4 linked regions of the Homo sapiens genome follow. The protein of the gene in region 2 purifies or fractionates together with the protein of the main gene of each other region. This does not show direct contact. Each region holds a gene or a part of one and is shown on either strand. Other genes may lie near its edges.

Region 1 (7,029 bases), on a different chromosome or scaffold from region 2:
AATCCAAAGCAGTAATGTATCATCAACCTGTGAAATGTAAAGAAGCACAGGTAAGTAGTGAAAGAATGAAGGAACCAAAGCAGTTGTTGTAATGATATAAAATAAGAGCCATAGCTTATTAGACCCTTAGAGTCCCAAAGCCCAGCCTTGAGAGTGTAGATTCGGGAAGGCTGGATTCCTTTGGCATCCTCTCTTTTCAGCTCTGGGTACTGCCGCAGCAGGTGAGCTTGTGTTTGGTCCCTTTCAGAGTCTGGAGTCTCCCATCTCTTGGAAATACAAGGATATGTATGAGCTACCAACTCCCATCTGGCTTTACTGGTCTGTGAAACATTCTATTTTAATTTGGTGAATCCTTTTTTGACTCTAGAGATCTTCAGCAGTACCTGCCCTTCACACCGTTTCCTCACCTTTGCCAGATCTGCTTTTGAGTAGCAGTTTTATCCCTAGATGTCTTATAGCCCAGACCTGGTAAATCACCAATGTGAATTATAGAACAGGATCATTTTTCATCCTGCTTTCATCCCAGTGGCTGGATTAATTTTTGGATCTCTGCTTTCTGTAAGCAGTCATTTCTTCCACAGCAGCCATCTGTGAAGAAACAGAGCTTACGAAATGACTGGGGCATGTTTTACATGGCTGTGCTCAGTTCCTTCTGTTTGATTCCCATGTAAGCTTTGGCAGTGATTTCCACAAGCGTTTCTGTGGGAGGTGCTGGAGAATGACTTTGGTAAACAGCCCCTTGGCTATTGTTGGCCCTTTCCCTGCAAATACCATAAAGGACACAACTTGAAAAGTCGCTCTGGTTTCTGAGCCCCTCCTAGGGCCCACCCCAGGTCCGACATCTGAAAAGCCGAACTCAGCCATGCTTGTGGTAGAGCAGCGATGTGGACTGCGTCTGTGTTTGCCTGACTTCTGCTGGGCCACTCTGGGCTGGATGGGAGCTCTGACCATAGAGCTTACTCCCCTCCCCTCATTACACATCCTGGGATTTTCACACTAGCCCTCAATCTGTTGGAGTCTTTTTAGGTAGAATCTCATTTCATCTTCCTCGTTTCCGTTTCAGGTTTTCATTCCAAGAATGGAATGGCTGGTTCCATTGAGAACCAGCCTTAGGAGTTCTCAGTGTATTGATTTTATTTACACTGCTAGTGTTACATTTTGCTTTTAGGAATATGGAAAAGCTTAGGGAATTTTTGGACATGTGTTTTTCTCTCTTTCTTTCTTTTCTTTTTTTTTTTCCTGATGGCCAGAGGTTTCTGCTCTCAAATTACTCAGTCAGGGTAATTAAGGACTAAAAAAATGTGAATGTGTGAATTTAACAGTAAAAACTTAAAGGAAGGAAAAAATACCTTCCTTATAGGAAGAAGAGAAAAATGCATATAAATAAACTTGTTAGAAAGAGAAAACTGATTTACCAGCAACTGAACTCCCTTTTGTTTCTTGATTTTTTTGCCTTTAAATAGGCTGTGCTATTTCCTGAAGTTGACCCATTTTCCTTGCTTCTGCCAACACTCCCTTAAGATAAGTATTTATAAAGTTTATTCCACGTTGATATTTCAATTGTTTCCAGAAATCCATCCCATCATAGCAGCTTCCCTACTGCCAGGGAACCTGACCTCAGTATTTCCTGAAGTCAGAGGATGGTCTTATATGTATGTAAGTGCAGGTATCTACAGTAAGAGAGAACAACTTGCTATATAGGGCTCATATGAGTCAACGCCAATAAATTGAAAATAAGAACTGAAAAAATTGTAACATTGTCCTCACATTATTTTTAAAGCATTATCTGTTTCGATGCTGGCAAAACTGATTATCTTATATAATGGCCAAAGGAACTGTTCACTTTCAAGAAATAAGCAACTAGCCTGTCTTTGTTTTCATCAGCATGTTTTTTGGTGACTAATATGTTGATTTGATGAAAGCTAATTGCACAAACATGCGGTTTGTGGGGAAGAAGGTAACGCATGGAACTATGTCTAAGAGATGTGGGTGTTCATTCCATTGGTGGATCCAGCACTTTCTTCCTCAATAAAGAGTATTTGTTCCTAAAATAACTGGTGTCCTTCAAGGCACAGAATGTCTAACTCAGCTGAAGGTATTTAATTTATATTATAAATGTACATATATATTTTATGAATTTTAATAGAAATATATTAATTTACATTTATAAGTTTAAACATAAAAACATAAAATACATGAAATATGTTTGAGTGTATTGTTAGGGACATCTCTGAGCTCCTGTGGAGATAGTGTTTTTTCCCTAACATAACTTACATTTAAGAAAATTGGATTTTTCATGAAATTTACTCAAGTAAGACTGTAGGCTGAGTTTAATATATATGACAACTAAACTTTCGGCCCATATTGCACCAAATTAAAGCTTTCTTCTTTGTCTTTGAGCACAAGAATGAAAGCTGGCATACTGTCCGGTAGACTGAAATGTGTCCTCATGGTCATTTTGACCACCTTATGAGCATGATTAATTGACAACATGTTGTTACTATCTTAATTCTTTGGTCTGAGTCTCAGCTCCCGTGTCAGACCTCTGAGTCCCAAACATAGCGCCACAGTCTGGGTCTTCACATCTTGGCCAGGTTTCTGTTAAAAAAACAAAGGCGCCTCTGTGTTATACTTTTATGGAGCACATGTGGTGTGTATTTATTTTGTGATAGGTTTTTATCACTTGGTAGAAAGATGTTACTGTATCTTAAGTGAACGATTGTTTCACCCTGTTGCTCCACAGACCCTAGTTGTTTCTTTAAAATGGGCGATGGATTTTTAGGGGCGTATTCACAAACCTGCCATGAAAGTCTTTCTTCTCCAGATGTTTACTTCTATATTTTTATGTGAAATTCAACTTTTTCACCTATGGACATGCTTCCCTGCAGCAAATAACATGACAAACTCTTTGCCTTTATATTGTCTTTATATTTCAGATACCCCCCCACCCCCACCAAGCCTTCTCAATTCCAAACCTGTGATTATGCTGGATGCTTTACGTGTTATGCTCCGGCTTGTAATGGGCCAACTGAAAGATAAACTGCTATTAAATAAATCTATGACTCTTTTGAGAACAAATAGAGCTGTTGAAAGAGTTTAAAAACATAGTGACTCCTCGAAAGACTGTGAACATTCTTGAACCCTTTGAATCAAAGTGAATTTTCTTCACTCTCTGTGTGTGGGTATACACTGAAACTTATAAGAAAGAACCTCAGTAGCAAGATATTTGAAGGCTTTTGTGTTCTTAACCCTGCAAGGTTTTTCTTGGCAAGACTTGAAGAAAATGTAGCTGTCGTCTATTTTCTGCTCCTGTCGAGGGGAGCAGTTGAGTCTGGGAGGCCTCTAATGTGTCAGAGAGAAGCCTGCAGAGTAGAGAAGAGCCCAGAAGCCTCCAGGTGCCCAGTGGTTCCCTAATTATTCCATTACCTAGTTACCTGGTTTTCTATTACCTAGTTACCTAGTTATTCCATTCCATTCCACCTCCTCTCCAAGCAAGGCTGGGTGGTTCTTCTATTTTGATCTCTTCTCATGTGTCTCTGTTGCTGTGGAGCTGCAACATCAAAGCCTACCCCAGACCACACGTGTCTTCTGTTGCCACCACGTTTCCCTCTGGACACTGGATCAGCCTTACTGCCATTAGGATGCTTATGCTTCCTAGAAAGCCTCATTTATCTGTGCTGGGGCAGCTGCTGAGGACTACACAAGATTCACTGTCATGGGTTTAGCTTTCAGGGACTCCCCAACTTGCCTAAGTTACCTCTTGGGTCCTTGATTGAAACTCCAGTTGCCAAGTAATGAAGATACAGAATTTTGCATTGATCTCTCTTCCCTTTTCCATCTTTCCTGTTTCCATTCTGAAAGGAACTGCTCTGAACTGGCAAATGCCTACAGGGACTTCAGTGTCATAGGACAGGCTACTTTGACTCCTTTGTATAACCTCAAAGTCACTGCCAATACAAGGGTAAAACAGATTCTGTTCTTTGTACTCAAATTCAGTGTGATGTGAGTTGGAATGCTAAGAAAAACTTAAGAGATATTTTTAGCAAAAATGAAATATTTTGATGCCTATCGCTCACCTGAAAATTTTCCCAGATTTGCCATTTCTAGATTTTTAGCAGCTTCACAAAGGGGTATTGTGTTTGAGTCGGAAGAGAAAAATGTTTTTATTTCCTGTCCTTGACGTTTAGTGGAATTGATAAAAAGCATCAAGGATCTTTGAGTTCTGGATCTCCTGCAAAAAAACACATTATGTAAGAAAGGACTTGAGTGTTTTTTTCCTGTTCGTCAGTACGAGGGGAGAGTTACTGTGGAAAGTGAAGGGCAGTGATCATCAGGAATGGAAAACAAAGAGCTTTGCTAGAAAATCACAGCAAGGGTGATCAAGCAGTTACCCTATTATCTGGCTCTAAACTTAATGTTGACCTCGACAACGACTTTTACATCCTCCCCCCAAACAGGCTCCTTTACTCATTCCTGAAAGGACACTGTTGCAACTTGAGTTATAGGGTTGTTGGAGCTACCTGATGTTTTATTAAATGGTTATTTAATCAATAAATGAGTGAGTGATCATCTCTTATGGTTGATCAGAAAGTATTCATTTAAAAAGTCATAGGTTTAACTTTTTTAAAAGTCAAGTCAGCACAGAGCTTATGTATTTAAGCAGTTGGAAGTCAAAATATTAATATGTTCAGTCAAGAATATCCATTTCGTTTCATACTTACTTGGCAGTTTAATTTTTTTTTGGCCATAGTTTACATGGTCCAACTGTTAGGTTGCTTAAATTTGCCAATATGAAATATTAACATTGGGGTGAATGCTTTATGAAAACAAGAAATTGTTTCTGCTTGGTCTACCTGTTTATTCATTCATCAAGATTTCCCAGGCTCTGTCAACAGATTTCTAAGCAGATATTTGATGATATATTGTTATAGGAATAAAAAATATGTTATAGAAATAGAAAACTACCTTCCATGTAGAGTAGAAAGAAGCCTTCATTGGTCTGTTTTTTTTGTTTTTTTGAGATGGAGTCTCACTCTGTCACCCAGGCTGGAGTGCAGTGGTGTGATCTCAGCTCACTGCAACCTCCACCTCCCTGGTTCAAGCAATTCTCCTGCCTCACCCTCCCAAGTAGCTGGGAGTACAGGTGTGCGCCACCATGCCCAACTAATTTTTGTAATTTTCATAGAGATGGGGTTTCACCATGTTGGCCAGGCTGGTCTCGAATTCCTGAGCTCAAGTGATCTGCCTCTCTCAGCCTCCCAAAGTGCTGGGATTATAGGCATGAGCCACCATGCCCAGCCTGTATTTTTTTTTTTTAATAAAAATAATCCTTGGGCAGCTGTTTATGTTGTTCTGTTATGCTTGCCTATCTATAGAATGAAATCAATGTGGTTTTTTTTCTCAACTTTCTTCTTTTTTATTCTTTTTTAGCCCCATCATTCAGTCTCTTTGTTCCTAAGTCTTTCAGATGCTTTAACCACACTATTTTCTTACCTGATTTTCTGTTCCACTTAGCATGTTATTCCAGGCAATGAATGTGTTGCTTCCCCTGTGATAGATTATGGCACTAAAATAGTAATGAGCTTTAGTACAATCAGAGCAAAAATTACTCTCCTAGGTAAGCCCCATTCTTCCCCTAGCTCAATTCAGTGTTCCATTAGCCACAGAAATGCCAAGGATTCCACATACCTACATATATATATGGAGAGAGAGAGAGACAAGCGAGAGAGAGAAAGAGAGAGAGAGGTTGAGACCGAGATTGAGACAGAGAGAGCTAGTTCCCTGTCAGGTCTTTACTACTGGAAGAGTCAAAGATTTGCAAATGGAGATTTTTCTTTGCATCTTCTTCTTCCTATTATCCTTTTTTGTAAACAATGTTTATTTTATTTTTAATTGACAAGTAATAATTATATATATTTCTGGGATACAAGGTGATGAGGTGATGTTATGATGTCTATACAATGTGGAATGATCAAATCAGGCTAATTAACTGTCAGCTTGCTGACTTATTTCTTTGTGGTGAGAACATTTAAAATCTACTCTTCACACAATTTTGACATATACATTATTATCAGCTATAGTCGCTGTGCTGTCTAATAGATCACTGGAACATACTCCTCCTGTCTAACTGGAATTTCGTGTGCTTTGACTAACATGTCACCTTTCTTCACCCACCTGTTACCTCCTCCTTAGCCTCCGGTAACCCCCATTCTACTCTCTACCTCTATGAGTTTGGCTTTTTTAGATTCCAAGTATAAGTGAGATCATGTGGTATCTGTCTTCCTGTGCTTTTTATTCTTAAAGATATTAACTGCAGAGGCCCAGCTTCATCCCCTGTCTTAGCCACTTCCCAGCCCAAGGTGACCTTGGGCTAATAATTTAAGTTTCGCATTTTTTCATCTGTAAAATGATGATTAACTATAGTATTGACCTTATAAGACCATAGTAAGGATTAAATGAGCTAATATATAATAAAATATACAGATATTATAAATATATACATATATAATATATACAGATATAAATATATACATATATAATATATGTATGTTATATATACATATATAATAGTATACACATATATACATATATAATATATACATAAATAATATATAAAAATATAAAAATATAAACATACATATAATATACATATATTATAAATAAATACAATATAATATACATTATAAATACATATAATGTTTTATGATATATAATTTGTGTGTGTGTATATATATATATATATATATATATATATATATAAACAGTGAGTACATTACCTAGTGCATGGTATGTGCTCAGAAAAAGATGACTATAGTAATGGTGCTGGCAGGTGTTAATGTCATTCATATTTTTCCCTAAACCTCTATTTTCCCATCTATTAAATAGCATAGTAATAGTACCTAACTCATTAATTTGTGAGGAATAAAGGCATATGGATCAACGTAGCATGTTGCCTGGCACCTTATAAGATCTCAGTGAATGATGATGTATACTTCTGCAATGATACAGATCATTGCACTTCTCCTGTTT
Region 2 (7,183 bases):
ATAACTGCAAGTGAATGAAGCAGAAATTTATATATAGTATTATTCTAAATTTGAATAGTAATTTAATTGACCAGAAGGAAATATACTGTTTTCAGGGTCTCTCTACATGGTGGGATCATAGGTGAAACAGTCTGGCTCTTTCTCCCCACCCAAATCTCATCTTCATTGTAATTCAAATTGTAATGCCCACGTGTTGGGGGAAGAACCTCGTGGGAGGTGATTAGACCATGGGGGTAGTTCCCCCATGCTGTTCTCATGATAGTGAGTGAGTTTTCATGAGATCTGATGGTTTTATAAGGGGCTTTTCCCCTCTTTGCTTTGCACTCTCTCTCCTGTCACCTTGTGACATAATTTTAAGTTTCCTGAGGCCTTCCCAGCCATGCAGAACTGTGTCAATTAAACCTCTTTTCCTTATAAATTACCCAGTCTTGGGTATTTCTTTATAGCAGCATGAGAATGTACTAATACAACAGGTAACATTTATCATCATCTATATACTTTTCAAAATTTCTGCGGAAATGTTTAATTTATAAAAGCAAAATAGCTTTTTAATATATGTTAAAAAACATAAAGAAGTAAATAACTATCCAAAAAGCTGCCACACAGATATAAGTACTATTAATGTTTTGGCAACATCCAAATATTTTTTTCTACATATATTCTGGATAGCATTTACTGAGCATTCACAATGTATAATGCACTGTGCTGAGAAGTCTTGTAAATATGTAAGATTTTATAATCTAATACTATGCTGCTATTGACCTGAGATACTGCATTTCTAACAAGTTTCCAGGTAATGCCAATGCTGTTTTTCTGAAGGCCATACTTTTCAATAAAAGTGTTGTACATTAAAATATTGTTATATGGAGGTCTGTGAAGGGGAAACAGTGCAGGGAGGGGAAAGAAAAAAGGAGACTTGGGCTTTCCTTTCCTTGAGAATCAATTGTCAGATGCTCAGAATTCATTATGCTACATTAAAGCTCAATTGGGAGAAATAAGTAAATTGTGGTCTCATAACATATTGGGGATAAATCCACTATGAAGGCAGACTACTTCCTCATTTGAAAGGTAGCAAAATTGAAGAACTTTAGTTACTGAGTCCTTCCCATGCATATTCCATTCTTCACTTAGTGTTTTAATTCCTGTTTCTTGCCTTTTCTACATCCATCCCATAGCATGTAAAGTATAATTATCTTCATTGTTGTATTTCCTAAATCATCAGTATTTGTTATAATTTCCTCTTTGACCGAAAGATTATTTAAGAACATTAAAAAAATTCCAAGTGTGTGATTTTTCAGGGTTGAAAATTATTATTTTCTAGGGTTTTTTTTTTTTTGTAATGTGGTCACGAGTGCTTTCTAGAAATATGTTAAAGTTTTCTCTACATTTGAGTATAAAATCATTTAGAAATGCTTCAGGATAATTTGAAGAGAATGCAAAAATAAGGTAGAAAAGTAATATATATATTACACACATATTTTAACTATTTAACTACCTTTTATCTCTTAACTTCCCATTTACTTGATTTATCAAAAGCTGTAACTGCGCTGGGTTGGTGGCTCACATTTGTAATCTTAGTGCTTTGGGAGGCCGAGGCAGGAGGATTACTTGAGCCTAGGAGTTGGGAGACTGCAGTGAGCTATGATGTTGCCACTGCATTCCACCCTAGGCTACAAAGCAAGACCCTCTTGTCTCTAAAAAAAGAAATCATAAATGTTGAAGTCATAGTCCAACATATTTTTTTGCTATATTCTCTTTAATAATACATACAGAAGGATTACTCAATAAATTTTAAATACATAAAATGCAACAATTTAAATGTACATGTTTTTAAATAGATGTATATCGATGTACATAAGTAAAACTATCACCCACATCAAGATCTGGAACATATATTTTATATATTAATGTCATATTATTTACCATATAGTTTGTTAAATGTTACATCCTATATTGTATGTTTTACATAAAATGTCTTATGTTTAGATTTTAAGAAAAATGTTGCCATTTCTATGATTTATAGTTTCCATTATCTTTAAACTCTTTGATCATTTGTTTTATACAAATGTATCTCAGGTTAGAGATTGATTTTTGACCCAATTTCAATTGTAATAGGGCTATTTAACCAGTTTATAGGTCATCTGTACTGTCAATCTACTTTTTGCTAATTTTAGTGTCTTTTTGCTATTTTTCTTTTTACCACTTCTTTTCCAAACATTGGAATGTATATATTCTATTTTTGTAGTTAACACTTATTTCCATGTCAAATTTACTTGGAACTATATGATTTACTTGGAACTATATGATGCAGTAACTACTGTTTTTCCCCATGCATCATGTACAGAAAATGAGGATGTATCCACCCCCTCCCAAACCAGTGATTTGGAAGTTTCTTTACAGTATCAGTAGTAACATGGACAAACTTGTTATTTTTTTCCTGCTATACTTAAAAATAAGGGAAATAAAACTGTACTGTTTTCCAATTGTCAGATTTGACATTTAGAATGTTATTTGTCAAATCTACAGTGACAAAGCCCTTTTACTTAGGTTTAGCTTAAGAACATGCGTATTTGTATCTACAATACTACATGCTAAAAATAAAACAGTATTTGTCCAATATATTGAACATGTGGTATGCCCTTCCAGTTTAAACGTAAACTGAAATTTTACACCCAGCTTATGTTTCTATTTTTGTATTTAGTTTTAATGCCCTATACATAACAATTTAAACTTAATGCTCCTTAACTAGTTTTAATGCATACCATCAGTTCTTTCATACAATTGCCTCCCTATTCTTATTTTAATTCAGGTTCTCTGTTAGCTGCAGTAAATCCTTCAGCAAAATTTTCAGGGAAAGTTCTTGGTTGATATACTTTCCTAACCCCTGTATATCTAAGAATGTCTTCCAGTTTCCTTTGTAAAGAAATGATAACTTGGCAGAGTATATAATTCTTGGCTCAAAATTATTTTCCCTTAACACTCTAGATATTGTTCCACTGTCTTCTGGCATTTAGAATTGCAGGAGAAAAATCTGAGGTCAGCCTGACTTTTGCCCCTTTGTAAGTAACCTGCTTTCTCTGACTGGATGCTTGTAAAATGTTTCGTCTTTGAAATTCAAAAACGTCACCCGGATATGTCTAGATGCTGCTTTCTTTTCATTAAACTTTAAAGGTATCCTATGAGCCTTTTCCATTTGTAGATCTAGTTCGTTCTTCAATTCTGGAAAATTTTTTCAAGTAGATCCTTTATTGTTTCAGCTCCACTTGCTCTGTCCTCAGTTTCAGGTATTCCTATTATGCATAGATTGTATCTCCTGGACCGGCCCTCTAGATCTCTCTTTTTCTCCTCTTAATTTCTTTTCCCCTTTTCTCTGTATTCTGTGACAATTTGTCGTTTTGCACTTACTTCAGTAATTCGATTTTGTGGCCAATCCAGCGTGCGCCCTTCTGTTAACTCTCTCAACTTCCTGGTATTTTCCAAGCGCTCTAATAGTACCCTCTTTATCATCGCGCATAGGTGTTTAAGCTCCTGTATTATATGATTCTCAATCCTTCTTATATCTTGTTTCCATCTCTATATCCGTTTCAAGAGGAGGCATTTTCTCGATTATTTAGCGCTGCTCCTTTTTTCTCAGGGGCGGTATTACGACCTTGGAGACAATAAACATAATTTAATTCCACACAGCCCCAAACAGCCCAAAGATTCCCATTGATAATTATCGACGGCTTTATTAAAATGCGTTATTTTTCTTTCTTACCTTTTCAGTTGCTTTTCTTAGAAACAGGGACCAAAATCAAAGATTAAAGAGGTCCTCTGAAGCAGGGAATGAAATAGACGTTGAAAACTATTCCCGTTACGCCATCTCTGCGCGCCTCACGTCAGGGCCAAGAGCCTAGCGCGTAGCTTTATGGCTGACTCGGCTCTGGCGCTCTAGCCAATTCCGAGGCTGCAAACTCCGCTTCTCCGCTCGCAGTCTGGTTCCTCCCCTGCCGCCCCGCCCATCACGGCAGGGTCACGGTAGCGCGCACGCGCAGCACCCCATTTAAGTTTCTCGTCTTTGCAGTGGCTTTGCTTAGATCCGGTGCCGCCTTGAAGGCGGGGCTGGGTCCCAGCCGTAGCCAATGGAGCCCCGGGTGAGGGTTGAGGGGTGGAAGGTGCCTACTAGCCGGTGCAGGTTTCTTCTAGCGCGTGTGCTGGGGTACCTGGTCGTCATGGAGGCGGTATTGACCGAAGAGCTTGATGAGGAAGAGCAGCTGCTGAGAAGGCATCGCAAAGAGAAGAAGGAGTTGCAAGGTGAGGCGGAAGGAAGTGGGAATCTGGAAGCCGCCGCGACTGGGGGAAGGGCGCGTGGCGGGTCGATTCTGGGGAATCTCAAGGCGTGACTTATCTGGATCACCCTAGACTTCCCCTAGTAGCAAGTGGCCTCTTCTCTCTTCACCTACCCCGGCGGCCCTTTAATTCCCCAACCTTCAGAGGCTTCCCCTTCTGAGGCCTGCGGCGTGCCCCCTACCCCGCGCCGCCGCCGGGGTGCAGGTGTCTGAAAATACCTAGAAGCCGCCGTCTTGGTCCGCTCCCAAACCCACGATGCCTCCCTTTTCTATACCTGCCCCAGTTACCGATACTTGTCCCTAATGGGTGTATTTTGAATGGACCCGCCTCAGTTTAGGAGGTTCAGAAAGGATACCGGAAAGATTTAAAACTGGCTACAGTCAGGTTTTTTTCCTTCTCTTATCTCGCCAAACAACCGAAACATATTCAAGATTTTGTTAATGAAGTTTTTTTTTTTTTTGGTCTCAGCTTTATCTGGGATCTTCTCTCTCTGTAGCTGCCTGTTACGTGATGACTCTTTCTTCCATAATTACTTTTTCTGTACCCTTCGCCCGTTACCATCCCCTTATTGGTTCCTGTTTCTCATCTCCTTTTACTCCTGCGTGTCTGACTTAATGATTTTAATGGCTTTTCAGCCAAAATTCAGGGCATGAAGAATGCTGTTCCCAAGAATGACAAGAAGAGGAGGAAGCAACTCACCGAAGATGTGGCCAAGTTGGAAAAAGAAATGGAACAGAAACATAGAGAGGAACTGGAGCAATTGAAGCTGACTACTAAGGAGAATAAGGTATGTGAAATAAATGTTTGTCGTTGCCTACACCATTTGAAAACAGCTGTCCACTTCTGTTAAATGTTAAACTGCTTTTTTTTTTTTTTTTGAGACGGTGTCTCGCTTTGCAAAACACGCTCAATCTTGGCTCACTGCAAGCTCCGCCTCCCGGGTTCAGGCCATTCTCCTGCCTCAGCCTCCCGAGTAGCTGGTACTACGGGCGCCCGCCACTACGCCCGGCTAATTTTTTGTATTTTTAGTAGAGACAGGGTTTCACCATGTTAGCCAAGACGGTGTCGATCTCCTGACCTTGTGATCCACCCGCCTCGGCCTCCCAAAGTGCTGGGATTACAGGCGTGAGCCACCGTGCCCGGCCCTGTTAAACTGTTTATTATCTAAAATCATAAAATTGGTAGGGAAATGAAATCACTTAGTTATGCTCATGCATCACTTCTCATTAATGTTTTTGTGACCAAGTTTACAGGGCAGTGTGTTTCTATAAGGGAGATCGGCAAAGAAAGTGCTATACTTCTTTACCTATTTACTTGCCCAAAAGATGAAGCTTCACCAAATCAAAGTTGGAAGACCAGGCATCTGATCCCAGAATTGCGACTGAATGGGATTGTAACCTGAGCAAGGTTACTTAATCTTTCTGAGCTCAAATTTTCCCACATATATAATACGATACAAATATTTCTACACTCTAAGCACAGGTTTTTGTAAGAATCAAGAAAGTGAACGTGAAGTCATTTTTGTTATAAAAGTGCTTTATTAACAAGTTGTAATGAATGAAATTTTACTGATGTTTCTTGGGTAAGTTGGAGCATCCTAACTTTCATAATTTTAACTAATATTTATTTTATCGTTGGATCTAATATATATGTGTCAAATACTTTGGTTTATATGTATTATCTCATTTAACCTCAGTAACACACTGTGAGGTATTACCTATGAAGTAAGTATACATAATCCCATTTTTCAAGTGGGAAACAGGGTTAGAGAGATTAAGAACTTTGTCCAGGAGTCGTAACAGCTGTTGATTGCCAAAGCCAGAATTCCAAATGAGAACTATCTTACTCCAGGAAGTGAATACTGAATTCTGTTACAGCTTTGTATAGTGTGGTATTTATTGTATGGGTTTTGGATATGAAGGGTCATATAGACCCCACAACCTCACTCCATCTTTGATAGAAAGTTCTTATGTCTATGTAAAATCTTAATCTGCCATACTTAAATTTTGGTTGATTTTTGGTTTGCTGTTGACAAGTACAGCTTGTCTGTGCTTTTTATAATGGTCCTTACATTAAATATAGTCTAAATTTCTTTAACTTTGTTAGTTATCAAGTTCCCAACTTTCCTTGCCTTTAATGTACTTCATCTCCAGGTAACAAGGCATATATGATACTCCAGGCGTTAAATTGTGTTGTGACAATTGTGTTCCTAATTGTCTCCCCATCTTTTCTATTAATGAGATAGTTTTGTTTGCTCCCTCAGACCTTTCCATTTTGAGGTTTCTTTCCCAGGTTTCCAAGGACAAAAATGTTTGATTCATAAGCTACATGGAGTCCTACTGTTAAAACACAAACTCCCATTTTAGTTTGAACTATTTATCTGTTTCATTAATTTAAATTGGTTTTCTTTTCTGAATACTACCAAAAACTAATGCCATTGCTTTTTTGTTTTTCAGATGCATCTCTTTTATCTTGCCTATTGTCAATATAGATGTTTGTAAATTTTAACAGCTTCCTCTGAAGAATCACAGGACTCCTAATTTCACTATAGTTGATAGCCACTCTTTGAAGTCTCTATCTGATTTTGATATTTTGATCATTTGGGACACAGCCTTTGCAGACTTCTGTCTCTGTGTATTAAAGGCCTTGAGTTGTTCTATGCATGTGTTATACTAAAAACTGGCTTACCTTAGAGTTGCAGTAATAATGGCTACTCATCCTTATAGTTAAAAGTCTAGCATCTTTTTTTTTACTCTAGCAAACACACACTAGCCATTTAGGATTGATTATAATATCAAATGATATTACAAATTAAATATATTTTCTGCCTGCAGTTATCAGTTTGTAGATGGAA
Region 3 (7,029 bases), on a different chromosome or scaffold from region 2:
TAACGTAGATGTTGTTGTTAGCTAATACGTGACAAAAAGATGCCTGATAGTACTTGCTAAGTTGGAAGAGCAGGTTAGTTTGGGCATACTTGTAAACATCCTGAATTAGTTAACATTACTTACAGGCTCATGAACTTAAGTTTGAAGCCCTTAAAGAAACTGTGCACTTTGAACTGCCTGACCTTTAAATGATGTTCTTCAGTTGTTTGACAAATACTATATGCCTCCCTTTTGGGGCGCTTGTGAAACAGCGAATGGCTGTTGTAGGTGTTTGGGACACAGCAATAAACAAGAAAAAGTCCTTGCCCTCATGAAGCACATAATCTAGTAAAGGGAAACTAAAGATACAATGTCAAGTACTGATGAATGTTTTGAAGAAAAATAATCAAGTTATGAGAGAAGGAACATTCTCAGCAAGGGAACGCATTGTTTTCGGCACTAAGTATCTCCTGTTGGAGGAACACAAGAGTGAACCAGTGTGCCTTAAGCACAGTAGAGGGAAGTGGTAGAAAATGAGGTCAAAAAGATAGGCCAGACAGGATGGTGCAGGGCTTTAGAGACTGAGCGAAGACTTTTTCAGCTGGTATTTGATGGAAAGCCTTTGGAGAGTTTTGAATGAGATTGGGGAGGCGGAGGTGGTGGCAGGAGGTTGTGATCTGATTTACATTTTAAAAAAACAAACTCTTTCTGGCAGTGGTTGGAGTAAAATAGGCAGCAAGGTGATAGATGAAGAGGCTTTTGCAGTAGTCCAGGCAAGAGGCGATGGTGAATTGTACCTTGTACCAGGGAGGTAGCAAAGGACATGATGAGACATGGTCAAATTCTGGATATATTTTTGAAGGTACAACCAAGAGGACTTCCAAGACATCCAAGTAGTGTCATAGAGTAGACAGAAATATGAATTTGGAGGTGAGGGAACAGCTTGCTGAACATAAATTTGCAAGTTAAGAGTGAATGGTATTTAAATCGAGAGATCAAGTGAGATTACCTAGGAAGGCATGTAGACTGTGAAGAGAGGTACAAGGATGAGCTCTGGAATCTTCAAATATGTAGAGATGTAGCAGAGAAAAAGCATAAAATGAAACTGAGAAGCAGCTGTCAGTGGAATTAGAAGAGAAAGAAGGAGCATTATATTCTGAAAGTCAAGTCAAAACATTTCAAGAAAGAAGAAGTGGGAAATGTCAACTATGGAAAGTGGAAAGTGGTCAGTTATGCTCAATGCTATTGAGAGTCAGGTATAATGAAGACTTTGAGTTGATTTTTAATCTTGACAAGGTGGAAGCTATCGATAACCCTGCCAAGAGTGATTTCAGCTGATTAGAGTAGGTTAGGCAGAAAATGGGAAGTGAGGAGCTGGAGACAGTATAAACAGTCCTCTCAGGAGTTTTGTTGCAAAGGGGAACAGAGAATGACGTGATGGCTGGAAGGGGCACGAGGTAAGTGTTCTTCAGTATTCAGTCCTCAGCTCTCATCCTTTCTCCCATCAACCAAAGTGAGAGCTTTACGCACTCATTCCCCCACATGTGTCTCCAAAGCTCTACTTAGCTCCAGACCCTCATTTCCAACTGGACCATCGTGAAGTAATGTTTTATACCCATGCAGATGGACATGTTATTAATGAAAATATCTGACATTTAATGAGTACTTTTACTGTGTGCCATAGATTGTTCCTAAGCCCCTTTGTGATCTCACTTAAATTTCAGGAAAATCCTTTGAGACAGGCATACTTCTTATCCCCCTGCAATAGCTTTTGCCATATTAATGCTATAAATAAAGCAACCCCCAAAAAGCAATAATTTATTCTTGCTTATGATTCTGTAGGTCAGCTAGGAAATGACTTCATGGGCCTAGCTCCAAATTGTAGTTTCGTTTCACTCCATTCTACACATTTCTTGTCCATTTTAGACCATTCCTGAAAATTTTACCTGCCTCTCCATTTTTTTCTGCATTGCTTCAACCAAACTACTGCGTTTAGACTTAACTCTCTCCATTCATCCTGTTAACAGTGATCTCTCCAATATTGGTATATGGTCATATAATTCCCCTGAATCTTTTAATGACTTCTTTTTACCTACAGGATGTTTAAACACTTTAGCAGGTACATGAAACCTTTGTGATTTGATCTCTCTTTCTTCATCTCCTCTCCATCCACTCAGTGTTTCAACCCTAATTACTAATGGCCTTTTTCTTGTTTTAGTGCCTGCTTCTAAGGCCTCCTTACCTTTGTACTCCTCAGTCTTTCTGCCAGGGCTCCACACTTAATTACTACTCTTCAGATAATCTTCAGGCTTTACTTCCTCTGTAAAAATTCCACCCACAGGCAAAATTGCACACTGGCTCATCTAATTAATCTCTCACAGCATGTTTTGGTTATCTGTTGCTGTGGAACAAATCACTGGAATGCGTAGTGACTTAAACAACTTTTATTATCTTTTACAGTTGTGTGGGTTGACTGGAATCACTTAGGTGGTTTGTCGTCTATGTAGCTGTAGTCAGATAGCAGGTGGGGTTGGACTCATCTGGAGGTTTAACTCACAGTCTGGGATGGCTGAGCCTTAAGTCTCAGGTCCTCTTCAAGAGGCTTCTTCAGCTGGTCTCTCCAGCAGGGTAGCTTGACTTCGTGGCTCATGACTCCGAGGAACACAAAAGCAGGAGCTGCCAGGCATCCTTAAGGTGTAGGTCTCAGACTGGTGCAATGTCACTCTGCCACAATCTGTTGGTTCAAGGGGCTCACACAGGGACAACCCAGATTCATCATGGGACAGATCTATGTAAGGACATGAACACAAGAAAGTATGATTTCTTGGGGCCATCATTAGAGATTAGTTATTAGATATGAGTGCCTAATATATACTTCTGTTATTAGGACATTACTTTTTAATCATTTCAGTACCAGACTATAGTTGCGTGCTGCATAATGGCATTTTGGTGAACAGTGGACTGCAAATAAGATGGTGGACCCATAAGATTATAATACGGTATTTTTACTGTGCATTTTCCATGTTTAGATACACAATACTCACCATTGTTTTAAAGTTGCCTATAGTATTCAGTACAGTAACATCCTGTACTGGTTTGTAGCCCTGAAGCAATAGTCTATACCACATAGCTTAGGTGCGTAGTAGGCTATACCATTGAGATTTATGTGAGTGCAGTCTATGATGTTTGCATGATGATGAAATTGCCGAACAATGCCTTTCTTAGAATGTATCTCCATCTTTAAGTAATGCATGACTGACTGTGTAAGGTTTTTATGGGCAAAGCTATCTTACCCATATTTTTATCTCTAGCACTATTACAGTGCCTGCTATATAGTCCCTCAATAAATGTTTTTGAGTAAAATGAACAGATAAGTAGTGATACAAAGTTTCTTACACATATCTTGTGATCATTCTTATATAAAATCAAGTATTCACCTTAGGCTTTTAAAATTTACTTTATTTTATTTTATTTTATTTTTTGAGATAGAGTTTCACTCTGTCGCCCAGGCTGGAGTACAGTGGCGCGATCTTGGCTTACCCAATCTCCGCTTGCTGGGTTCAAGCAATTCTCCTGGCTTAGCCTCCCGAATAGCTGGGATTACAGGTGTGTGCCACCACGCCTGGCTAATTTTTGTATTTTTAGTAGAGATGGGGTTTTACCATATTGGCCAGGCTGGTCTCAAACTCCTGACCCCAGGTGATCCGCCTGCCTCGGCCTCCCAAAGTGCTGGGATTACAGGTGTGAGCTACCGTGCCCGGCTTTAAATTTTTAGTTAGATTAAATATAACCTAAGTTGTTTTTTTTTTTTTTTGAAAATTATTAATTTGGGGGGAAAATAGGACTAATTTGAGGACATGTAATAATTTTTCTGTGCTCTCGTCCTTAGAGGTTGTATATGAGAGCTTAAATGATCACTTTAAAATACGAAGAATTGTGGTAATGTCATGTTTAATCTTTACATTTTAAAAACCTTGGCTTAGTTTTTTTTTAAATATTATAAAAACTCTAATAATTAAATAGAATGTAAAGGAAATGTATACATATGAATCAAGAGGATTCTTGGATTTTTAAGTAACTTTTTTTATTAGAAATGAAAATATTTTCCCTTTTGACGTTACATAGAAACCTGTGCTGAATTGTCTAGTCAATTAACGTGTATTTATTGAGACTTAAACACATGCCCATAATGTGCCTGGTACTGTTTAAGAAATAAATTAAAAATATAAGATACACAGAGATCCTTTTCTTACTGTTTATTGTCCAGTATTTATTTTTAATTTGCAGTGCACCCAAAAGAACTTAAAATGTCTTATAAGAAACACAAGGGTAAGAAATAAACTAGAGTCAAGGGTGAAGCTAATAGAAAAATGTATGCTGTCAAGCTGGGTACAGTGGCTCAGGCCTATAATCCCAGCACTTGGGGAGGCTGAGGCGGGAGGATTGCTTGAGGCCAGGAGTTTGAAACTAGCCTGGGAAATATAGCAAGACCTGTCTCTACAAAAACATAAAGCATAAAAAAAAATGAGCTGAGCCTAGTGGCATGTGCCTGTAGTGTTAGTTACTCTGGAGGCTGAAGCAGGAGATTCACCTGAGCCCAGGAATTTCAGGATACAGTGAGCTATGATCGTGCCACCACTCTCCACCCGGAGTGACAATGAGACCCTGTCTCAAAAACAAACAAAATGTATAAGCTATAAACTTTTGTTGTTGTTGTTGTTGTTGTTTTTGAGACGGAGTCTTGCTCTGTCGCCCAGGCTGGAGTACAATGGCGTGATCTCAGCTAACTGCAACCCCTGCTGCCCGGGTTCAAGTGATTCTCCTGCCTCAGCCTCCTGAGTAGCTGGGATTACAGGCGCCCGCCACCATGCCGGCTAATTTTTGTGTTTTTAGTAGAGTCGGGGTTTCACCAGGTTGGGCAGGCTGATCTTGAACTCCTGACCTCAGGTGATCCACCTGCCTTTGCCTCCCAAAGTGCTGGGATTACAGGCGTGAGCCACCATGCCCGGCCAACTTTGTTTTAATTATCTGAGCAGCTAGTGCAAAAAGAGAAACCTGGGTGGACGTAATTATTTATAGATTAAAAACAAGGCAACTGCTTAGGAGATGCACAAATCTGATAATTAGATGAGTTTTTAAAAAAATCCTGATGAGATCCCCTCATACAGAAGACATTGCTGTAATGAAGTGTCTTCAGTCTGTGTCTTCAGATACATACTTGTTTTAAAAAATGTTCCTTGATAGAAAGCAAAAGTATATTACTGAAGTATAATTTGATAAAAGCAATTTGAATGGGAGATCTCACACAAAATAATCTACAAACTTGATTCTCTCTTGTTCCTGGAGTGTACTTCCCACCGTCCTTTTAATCTTTAGATCTAATCTCAAGCAGAAATTTCTCTACAAACCTTTTCCACATCTTCCTAAGTCAAAGCCCGCATTTATAGATTCTCATAGAACCATGTATAGGTTTGCGGCACTTGTCCTGTTAAGTGTGAATCTAATCAAGGGCAAATGGTGATAAAGGCCTCACATTGCTGCTCTGTTTTACAACTCTAGTAATTTTTACCTGACAAAAATACATCAAGGCAGGCATGTAAAGACTTCTAGACTGCTACCTTGTCCTTCAAACAAAAATTTCTTTTTTTTTTTAATTAAAAAAAAATTTTTTTAAGTCTCACTTTGTTGGCCGGGCTAGAGTGCAGTGTTGCGATCTCCGCTCCCTGCAGCCTCCACCTCCCAGATTCAAGTGAGTCTCCTGCCTCAACCTCCCAGATAGCTGGGATGACAGGCATGAGCCACCGTGCCTGGCCTAAAACAAAAATTTCATAGTTTTCTAGTTTAAGAAGGGAATTGAGCATGCTGTTAGCATTCTCTCTCTCTCAATTAAAATGACTATTAAGAAATTTTTAAAAAATAGTAAGTCCATTACAATGAAGAGAAAAAGAGAGGTTGGAAGGGCCAACAGAGTAGAAAGGGACAGAGAAGTTGGAAGCTGATTGATGGATGAACTAGAGTAGATGAATCTGGAGCCCAGAATCCAGAGCTTTCAAAGCCGCAGCGGAGCTGGAGCGCCTTTCCTGGCAGAACCCCAACAAAGTTCTTGGCTAGCAGTTGGAAGTAAGGAGGGTGGAAATGAGAAGGTAGTGCTAAAACATGGAAATTAATTTAAAGCCTGTGTATAGACCATCCCCTTAGCCAGCTGTCCATGACAATGGACAGGCTTTTTGAGATAAATTGAACAAACTGCCTGAGAAGAACTGGGACTGCTGGGTATGGCTTTGGGACCCCAGGGTTAAGCTCTCTTCCAATGGCTTTGAGGGGTCCCTGCCCTAGGGCTGGCTTCCCACTCTAATGCCAGGTGCCAGTCAGCAAGCCTCCCACATACACAGAGCTCCCAGCCAACATTTCTGTTTTGGAGATAGTATTATCTTGAAAACAGACCAGCTGCTTAGAATAGTGAAGTTGGAGACGGAGTTTAATCATCTGACATATAAGGAAAAGCAGAACGTGAATGACAGAGACCAAGAGAAACACAACAGCGGATCCTCAAGGAAACAGACGAGAACTTTTAAAACTTTGGTTAATGTCATCTTGGAGACTTCAGAAAGTTTTTGCGTTCATAAAACCAGCACATGGTGCTGTGGAGAAAAAAGGAACGATCAAGAAAGAAGCAAGCATTCTTAGAAATTTAAATGTGATTGCTGTAGAGAAAAATAGGAAGGCACCAGAAGATAATGGCAAGGAAATCTTCCAAAATGCAGAGGGAAATAATGATAAAAAATATGAGACAACATACAGATAAATAGCTAATATTTACTGAGGCAATTTTTTTTGTCAGGCGTTATTCAAAATGCTTTGTGTTTTAATTTATGTTAATCCTCACAACCACATTATGAAGTAGGTGCTCTTATTCTCATCTTTTTAGAGAGGCAGGCATTGATAATAAGTCACATGGCTAGCAAGTGACAAAACAAGCTCAAACCCAAGCAGTCTATTTCCTCTTGGCCTTACTGTATGGCACTGAAAACAGTCAGAAGCCCTGAAATG
Region 4 (7,029 bases), on a different chromosome or scaffold from region 2:
CCAAAATATTATCATTTCAATATATAATCAACAGGAAAGAATAGATAATTTACATTATTTATTAAGTCTTTGAAATCCAGGGTGTATTTTAGTTACAGCACATCTTAATTCAAACTAGTCACATTTCAAGTTCTCAGTGGCCACATATGGATGGGCAGAGGCTACCATATTAGATAGCATAGGTCTAAGCAAGTCCAGAAGTATGAGACCCCCCAATAGCTAAACATGAATGGGAGAAAACTTAGTTTCTTCTAAAAGTTGTATTTATTTTTCTGATTTTCTTGAATGCAATGGAAACTGCAACCTGACTTTTAGCAAGCCCCAGGCCATCTCCTTGCATGACTTTAATCACTGGATTTTTCTTCCCAAAAATTAAATCATTGGATCCGGAGCAAAATGTAGATTAGGCCCCTCAATGTTTTTTCCCTTAAATTATAACTGAACCCAAACTCTTCCTGTCATTAATTTTAATATCTTTTTTTTTTTTTTAGACGGAGTCTTGCTCTGTCGCCCAGGCTGGAGTGCAGTGGCACAATCTCGGCTCACTGCAACCTCCGCCTCCCAGGTTCAAGCAAATCTCCTGCCTCAGCCTCCTGTGTAGCTGGGATTACAGGCACGCGCCACCACGCCCGGCTAATTTTTTTTTTTTTTTTTTTTTTTGTATTTTTAGTAGAGACAGGATTTCACCATGTTGGCCAGGGTGGTCTCAATCTTCTGACCTCATGATCCACCCACCTTGGCTCCCAAAGTGCTGGGATTACAGGCACGCGCCACCATGCCCAGCTAATTTTTGTTTTTTGTTTGGTTGGTTTTTGAGACGGAGTTTCGCTCTGTTGTCCAGGCTGGAATGCAGTGGTGCGATCTCAGCTCACTGCAAGCTCCGCCTCCCGGGTTCATGCCACTCTCCTGCCTCAGCCTCCCGAGTAGCTGGGACTACAGGCGCCCACCACTGCGTCCGGTTAATTTTTTGTATTTTTAGTATAGACGGGGTTTCACGTTAGCCAGGATGGTCTCGATCTCCTGACCTCGTGATCCGCCCACCTTGGCCTCCCAAAGTACTGGGATTACAGGCGTGAACCACCGTGCCCGGCCTTCCCCAGATATCTTCAAAGCAACTGCTAGTCCTGCTTTTGCACATTACACTCTACATTCTCATTGCCCCACTTAACTAACCCTCCCTCATGTCCTTTTCTAAAGATGTAGAAGACTTTGAAATAGCATAACATTTAAATGGTCACAAATCACCTGGCTTGAAAGTGACTAATAATAGGAAAATCAGACCTCAGGACTGAGTTCAATTTCAAGATTCTCCCACTCCACTTTGCTAAGAGGGAAACAGAAAAACATTACTCCAGCCACACAAATATGATACTGTGCAAGTATCCCACTCTTACTCATTCAAATCCTACCCATTTTTTCCCATCGTGGAACAGAGTCTTGCCAACTTATACCTCTCTCCAATAACCCATAAAGATGGTGATTTGAATTTGGGCCAAGATTTAACATTTTATGAAATACAAGAGGAGAGTTTTCTGCAAAACACAGGATTTGCAGACAAGGAGACTTAGGTTCAAATTCCAGTTCTGCCATTTATTACCTCAGAGAGGTCATACAACTTTCCTGAAGTTGTATGACCTCTCTGAGCCTTAGTCTCCTCGTTTGTAAAATGAGAGTTAAAATCTACCTCATGGAATCATTGCTAAGATTAAGCAAGATATATAAGTAGAGCTTGTGCACATGGTAGGTACTTGGAGAATGTTATTTCTCCTTCCCTCTTACTCATCTGGACAAGTTTAACTAGAATTCTAAACAGTTAAATATGTATCAATCCTTTGTATTAAATATCTTGATGGTAAAATGTTAAAATATTGATGTGAATAACAGCTGGTATTGAATATTCAAATTAGGGGAACTCTTTCATTGTTTTAAGATAACATCTGTACATTTAATCTGTGCCATGCAATAAAACAGCTTTTCCTGAAACAGCTTTTTAAAAACTATTTTTAAGAAATTCATAAGTTACTTTTAAGAACATTAGCTTAGAACATCTTCCCCTTTCACAACAAATTAGACATTAGAGCCAAAATTGCCCAAATTGGTATAGTTTCTATCTCCCTACACTTTAATCAAGATGTTTGTCTTTATATCAGCAAAAACCGCTACTTAAGTGAGATTCCTGCATCCCAATAAATGTATCTGGGCATTTGGTACTTGAGAGAGGATTGGGTTTGACAACACCCAGAAGCTAATGAGGATGTGCCTTCTCTCAGACCTTTGCATTCAGGAGCAAGAAAGCAGAAATACTTTGTGGACTCCTTTTCAGACACTTTACAAAATACAAAATTTTAACCTTGTGAAACACAAAATAAATGCAGGATAAATGTCCAAACATTTTAGCCCCTACTGTTTTTGAAACTGAATAAAGCCATGATAGTGAAAAATATTTTCCAGTCAGTGCTTTTTGGAAGCTATTTAGTAGATATTAATTTGATGGGTTAGAGATTGCTATTATCCCATTAAATGAAGCTGTTTCTACTTCATATTCAAATATATTTCAAGTTGAACTTGCTTAAATCTAAAATGCTTACACAAGCAAACTGTGGAAAGAATTTAGTCACGCAAAAGAAAACTTTTTCTTAATCCTGGATAAGTCAACTCTAAGAAAGCTGTCCAGAGCCTACAGAGCAAAAAGGACTTTCCTTCCAGCCTCCTCACCATGTCCAATCTAGTCCAGATGTGAAGAGTCAATTTTGGTTTTAAACAAAATTTGCATGCAGCAGCATTAGAACTAATGAAAACAGTATCCAGACTAAGACGTGCATACAAAATCTTTCACATCATGAGAAACTAAAAATTTGTTAAAACATCAGTCGGCAGGAACAGACATCTCAAGCTCCACTGATAAGGGAAGCAAAACTGGAACTACATGCCGCTTTTAAAAGTGTCTCAAATTTAAGCTCACTCAAGGACTATTAATAGACAGTGTCAAACTGACATGCCGTTTCATCATTAAATCATCTTATTGGTTTGCAAGTTTCCAAGCCTCAGGGCTTCATTATGCATCAGCATAGGACAACACCAGAATTTGGGGACAAAGACAACATCCCTTTTTGAAAGAGGTGGTAAGAATAAAAACAGGTTGGCCAACCTTGGAAGCCACCGCAGTATGGCTTCCCATGAACCAAAAAGGCAATTGAATTGTATTTGTTTTCAAGGCATACGTTTGGAAAAATAGCACTTTTTCCAAGCATGTGCTTAGTTAGAACAAATGATTTATTGCTTAAAACCCAGTCTTTTACTCACACGCTTGTGAAAATAAGAAGAAATTACCTATTTCACCATAGATTATTAAATGGACGTTAACAGTTATTGACAATCGAGTCTTGTGATAAGAAATTAAAATTATAAAGTAAATCTTCCCGTCTTTAAATTCTAGGTGGTAGAGTTCTGAGAACACTTACAATGAACTTTAAGGGAGTAATTGATTATGCTTTTGAAGTCTCCTATATTCACATATTGGCTGAAAGTAAAGCATTTTAAAATTGGAGAATGAAATGAAGAGCAATAACATTTGTTATATGAAAACTGTGGTTTTACTTTTAAAATGGGATTTTAAAAATGTATTAGTTGGGTCGGGTGTGGTGGTTCACACCTGTAATCCCAGCACTTTGGGAGGCCAAGGCGGGTGCATCACCTGAGGTCAGGAGTTTGAGACCAGCCTGGCCAACATGGTGAAACCCTGTCTCTACTAAAAATACAAAAATTAGCTAGGTGTGGTGGCACACGCATGGGATCCCAGCTACTCGGGAGGCTGAGGCAGGAGAATCGCTTGAACCCGGAAGACAGAGGTTGCAGTGAGCCGAGATCGTGCCATTGCACTCCAGCCTGGGCAATGAAGCAAGACTCCATCTCAAAAACAACAACAACAACAACAACAACAAATGTATGAGTTGGATGAGTTTAATTTTTTGCTTTCTGTTTCTGCCTAAAGATAAACCAATTTAGCATATATTGATATTAAGATGTCTGCCATATTTTGAACGTTAGCCTGTTGATTTACAGTCTTCCAAATAAGACTGATGCCTGAAGCTCATTTTTTGGTTAACTGCTTCTGTTAGTTGCACACCTTTTCCTACCTTCCTCTAATCTTAAGTCTATTTAGTCATTTGAAATATCAGTTTTCACCTGTTAGTATTACTAGCTATGTTTGCTATATTTCACAAATACATTTCTAAAACAATCCATTAATTAGAATTGGACATTAATAGTGAGGCATGTCATTCTCTGTAACAACTAAGATTTTAAGTAGAAATTATTTCACTAATTCATCTTTTATTTCTCAAAGTATTCAAGGCTAAAATTTGGAGTTCTTTAATTTTCATTCTAAGAGGCAAGTATTAATTATACTAATGAGTTCAGATGTTTTTATTTATTTTTCCTCCCAATGACCTATTCTTAATGAACATGGTATTATTAAGAGACATTCCAGTGAATCATCTCCTGTATTTTTTTACATGCATAAATTATATTCCCTAAGGCCAGACTCTTAAACAGACAGATGAACCTAATAGTCTCAACAATGATTTAAAAACTGGCCCTCAATTTTCTTCATTCATTCCTGATCTCGTGGAGTTGTGGTCCTTTACTTGGTTTTAACACAGTATTCAACAAATTGTTGTTATAGTTGATAACATCTACTCATTCTTTTACCTGCCTTAAAAAGTGTAATAAAAGTATTCATACAAAGTATAAAATACATACAAGTATAAAAATGTATAATACATTTAATTTACATGCATCTCTACAATGACAAGTATGATTTCTTTAGAAACTGATGCATACATTTTCACTGTTTTTCTTTCATTATATATCAGTTTTAATGCATACTACTTAGAAATTAGAATCATTTTGAGTTTCTTGAAGAGCCTTGATAATTATAGTCTCAAAATTAAGGAACCTAGACAAACAAAGTTAAAATATTTATGACATTTTGCTTGGGCATACATTCATATTTCCATTAATATATAATTGCTACATTATTAATAAGTGACATATTTATTATAATGAAACACCTCCACGAATTTAGTGAATTGTAATTCTTATCTCTTCCTCTGAAGTATTATACTTAGAAATACGTATCTTCAGTTACTGATTTGGGTACGACAGGGAACCTGGCTGGATATCATTATTATTTGATATATGCCATATAACCTTCTGTTTGGGGAATATAAAATCCCTCAAATTGGAAATGTTCATGACTACCCATGGGATAAATCCAGCTGTTTTTGTTTGGGGTCCAGAGCATAAAAACAGAAAAGGAAAAATGCAGCTTCCCAACAGACCACTACCAAACCACCATAACAGACAGTCTGCTAGAAGAGAACTGATCAGGCCATTATGTCACCGGACAACAGGACAATCATCTGAGTTGGGATGCTGAATCACGGCAACTCCAAGACATCTGGGATTTTTTTTTTACCCTCACATTGGATACAATCTATGGAATATTACTACATTTAGTTCATTTGTAATTTACAATTTTTGATGACTAAAATTGGAAAAGGATTAGTACATTCCTACTGGCTTTACATATTAGTATTGGGCTGTCACCATTACCCAGATTATTTAAAATGTAAATTTTCTTTACTCACTAGATTGGAAGCTCCTTAAGAGCAAGGGCTACTTCTGTATTATTCATCTTCATGCCACGTCACTTAGAACCTAGTAGATACTCAATAAATACCTATTGAGCTGAACTGACCTTGTCTGAGTAAAAGTGAGTCCAATACACAAGTTACTAGATTGTAGGTTGGTTTGACACAAACTTAATTTTGAAACTAAAAATGAACTAAAGACACACTGCCTGAGAGAAGCAGGCTCTCTATCCCTGTATTCCTATTCTCACGAATATAGGTAAACTAAGTTTCCATTAAGCACAGTATCTAAAGATGCTGACACATCTGCTAGTTTAATCTCTTTGAATTGCCTTTCATGTATGACCTAATGTTTAGAAAATGACAAGGATCACACATGTAGAGTGACATCCCTGATTAACAGTGATGAGCAGAGGCCTCAGACCCAGGGGAAGCAGAGAACATACATATTTAGTCCATATCACCAAGGCAACACAGTGTACCTCAGCACAGTAGAAAAACAAGCACAGATGTTGATGTTGAATATTTAAAAAGTGTTCCTTACACCCACTGTAACAGTGGTTAGACACAAAGATGAATTATTTCAAAAACCAAGCTATTAAAAGTTTTTACTTCTCTAATGTATGTATATGTGTGCTTTGTTTTTCATTGCTAATACTCCATAGGCAGTCTTGGTCAAAAAACATTCTCTTAGCAACAAAAATAAAGGTTCAAAGTTTGATTCTGACATAAATGACTTGTATATTCTTTTTAAGAACATAAGGAGCTACAGGCCTCAAATAGGGTGCCTCCTCCCCCAAATAGGGAGACATCTGAATTTGAAGCCAGTAAGTCAGCAAAAAATTAAACTATCTGTTGAAGAAACCCCCCTGGGAGATGACTTACAAATGAGTTCCTGATGAGACTATTTATACTTTCGTGGACCAGGAATAAATAATATGGTAAGCTGCAGAATAAAACTGTCATAACATAAGGAAAACTACATGGAACTTGAAAAGGATATAGGAAATAAAATATCAGGGCACCTCTATGGGCTAGGAAAGAGATGAGATTTTGGCAGAGATAAGCATTCTAATTAATGATGAAGCAGGAAAAATTCTCCAAGTCTTACCTCAGCACAACTGAAATATTACCCCAATTTATCAATCTTCCTTTGCTCATACCTGTGTTTACCAAGTAACTTCCTGTTTCCTAATTGTTTACCATAGGCAGACCTATCACTATGAATTAATACATTTATATTCTAACTGGGGAATCTCCAAGTCTCTCAAGTTTCATCAGTGGGAAATGGTTTCTCAAGCTGAGGGTCAGACCCTGGATCTATGTCCACCTATGTTACATCCTGGGAGACCCAGCTGGAACAGCCAGCCAAATG

Evidence for each region.
Region 1: the proteins of OTUD6B (region 2) and LIMCH1 purify together in Homo sapiens (affinity purification with mass spectrometry; 3 studies listed by BioGRID and IntAct, with this or other methods). This does not show direct contact.
Region 3: the proteins of OTUD6B (region 2) and BTBD1 purify together in Homo sapiens (affinity purification with mass spectrometry; 3 studies listed by BioGRID and IntAct, with this or other methods). This does not show direct contact.
Region 4: the proteins of OTUD6B (region 2) and MCTS1 purify together in Homo sapiens (affinity purification with western blotting; 2 studies listed by BioGRID, with this or other methods). This does not show direct contact.

The regions. Positions count from the first base shown.
Region 1 is NC_000004.12:41,541,139-41,548,167, forward strand, and holds part of LIMCH1 (LIM and calponin homology domains-containing protein 1), read left to right. Parts: intron 1-2,315; exon of another isoform or gene 2,316-2,598; intron 2,599-4,076; exon of another isoform or gene 4,077-4,231; intron 4,232-7,029.
Region 2 is NC_000008.11:91,066,174-91,073,356, forward strand, and holds the start of OTUD6B (deubiquitinase OTUD6B), read left to right. Parts: upstream 1-4,170; 5' UTR 4,171-4,211; coding exon 4,212-4,293; intron 4,294-4,964; coding exon 4,965-5,116; intron 5,117-7,183.
Region 3 is NC_000015.10:83,057,225-83,064,253, reverse strand, and holds part of BTBD1 (BTB/POZ domain-containing protein 1), read left to right. Parts: intron 1-2,408; exon of another isoform or gene 2,409-2,767; intron 2,768-7,029.
Region 4 is NC_000023.11:120,614,093-120,621,121, reverse strand, and holds part of MCTS1 (malignant T-cell-amplified sequence 1), read right to left. Parts: 3' UTR 1-7,029. UniProt on the Homo sapiens protein: Translation regulator forming a complex with DENR to promote translation reinitiation.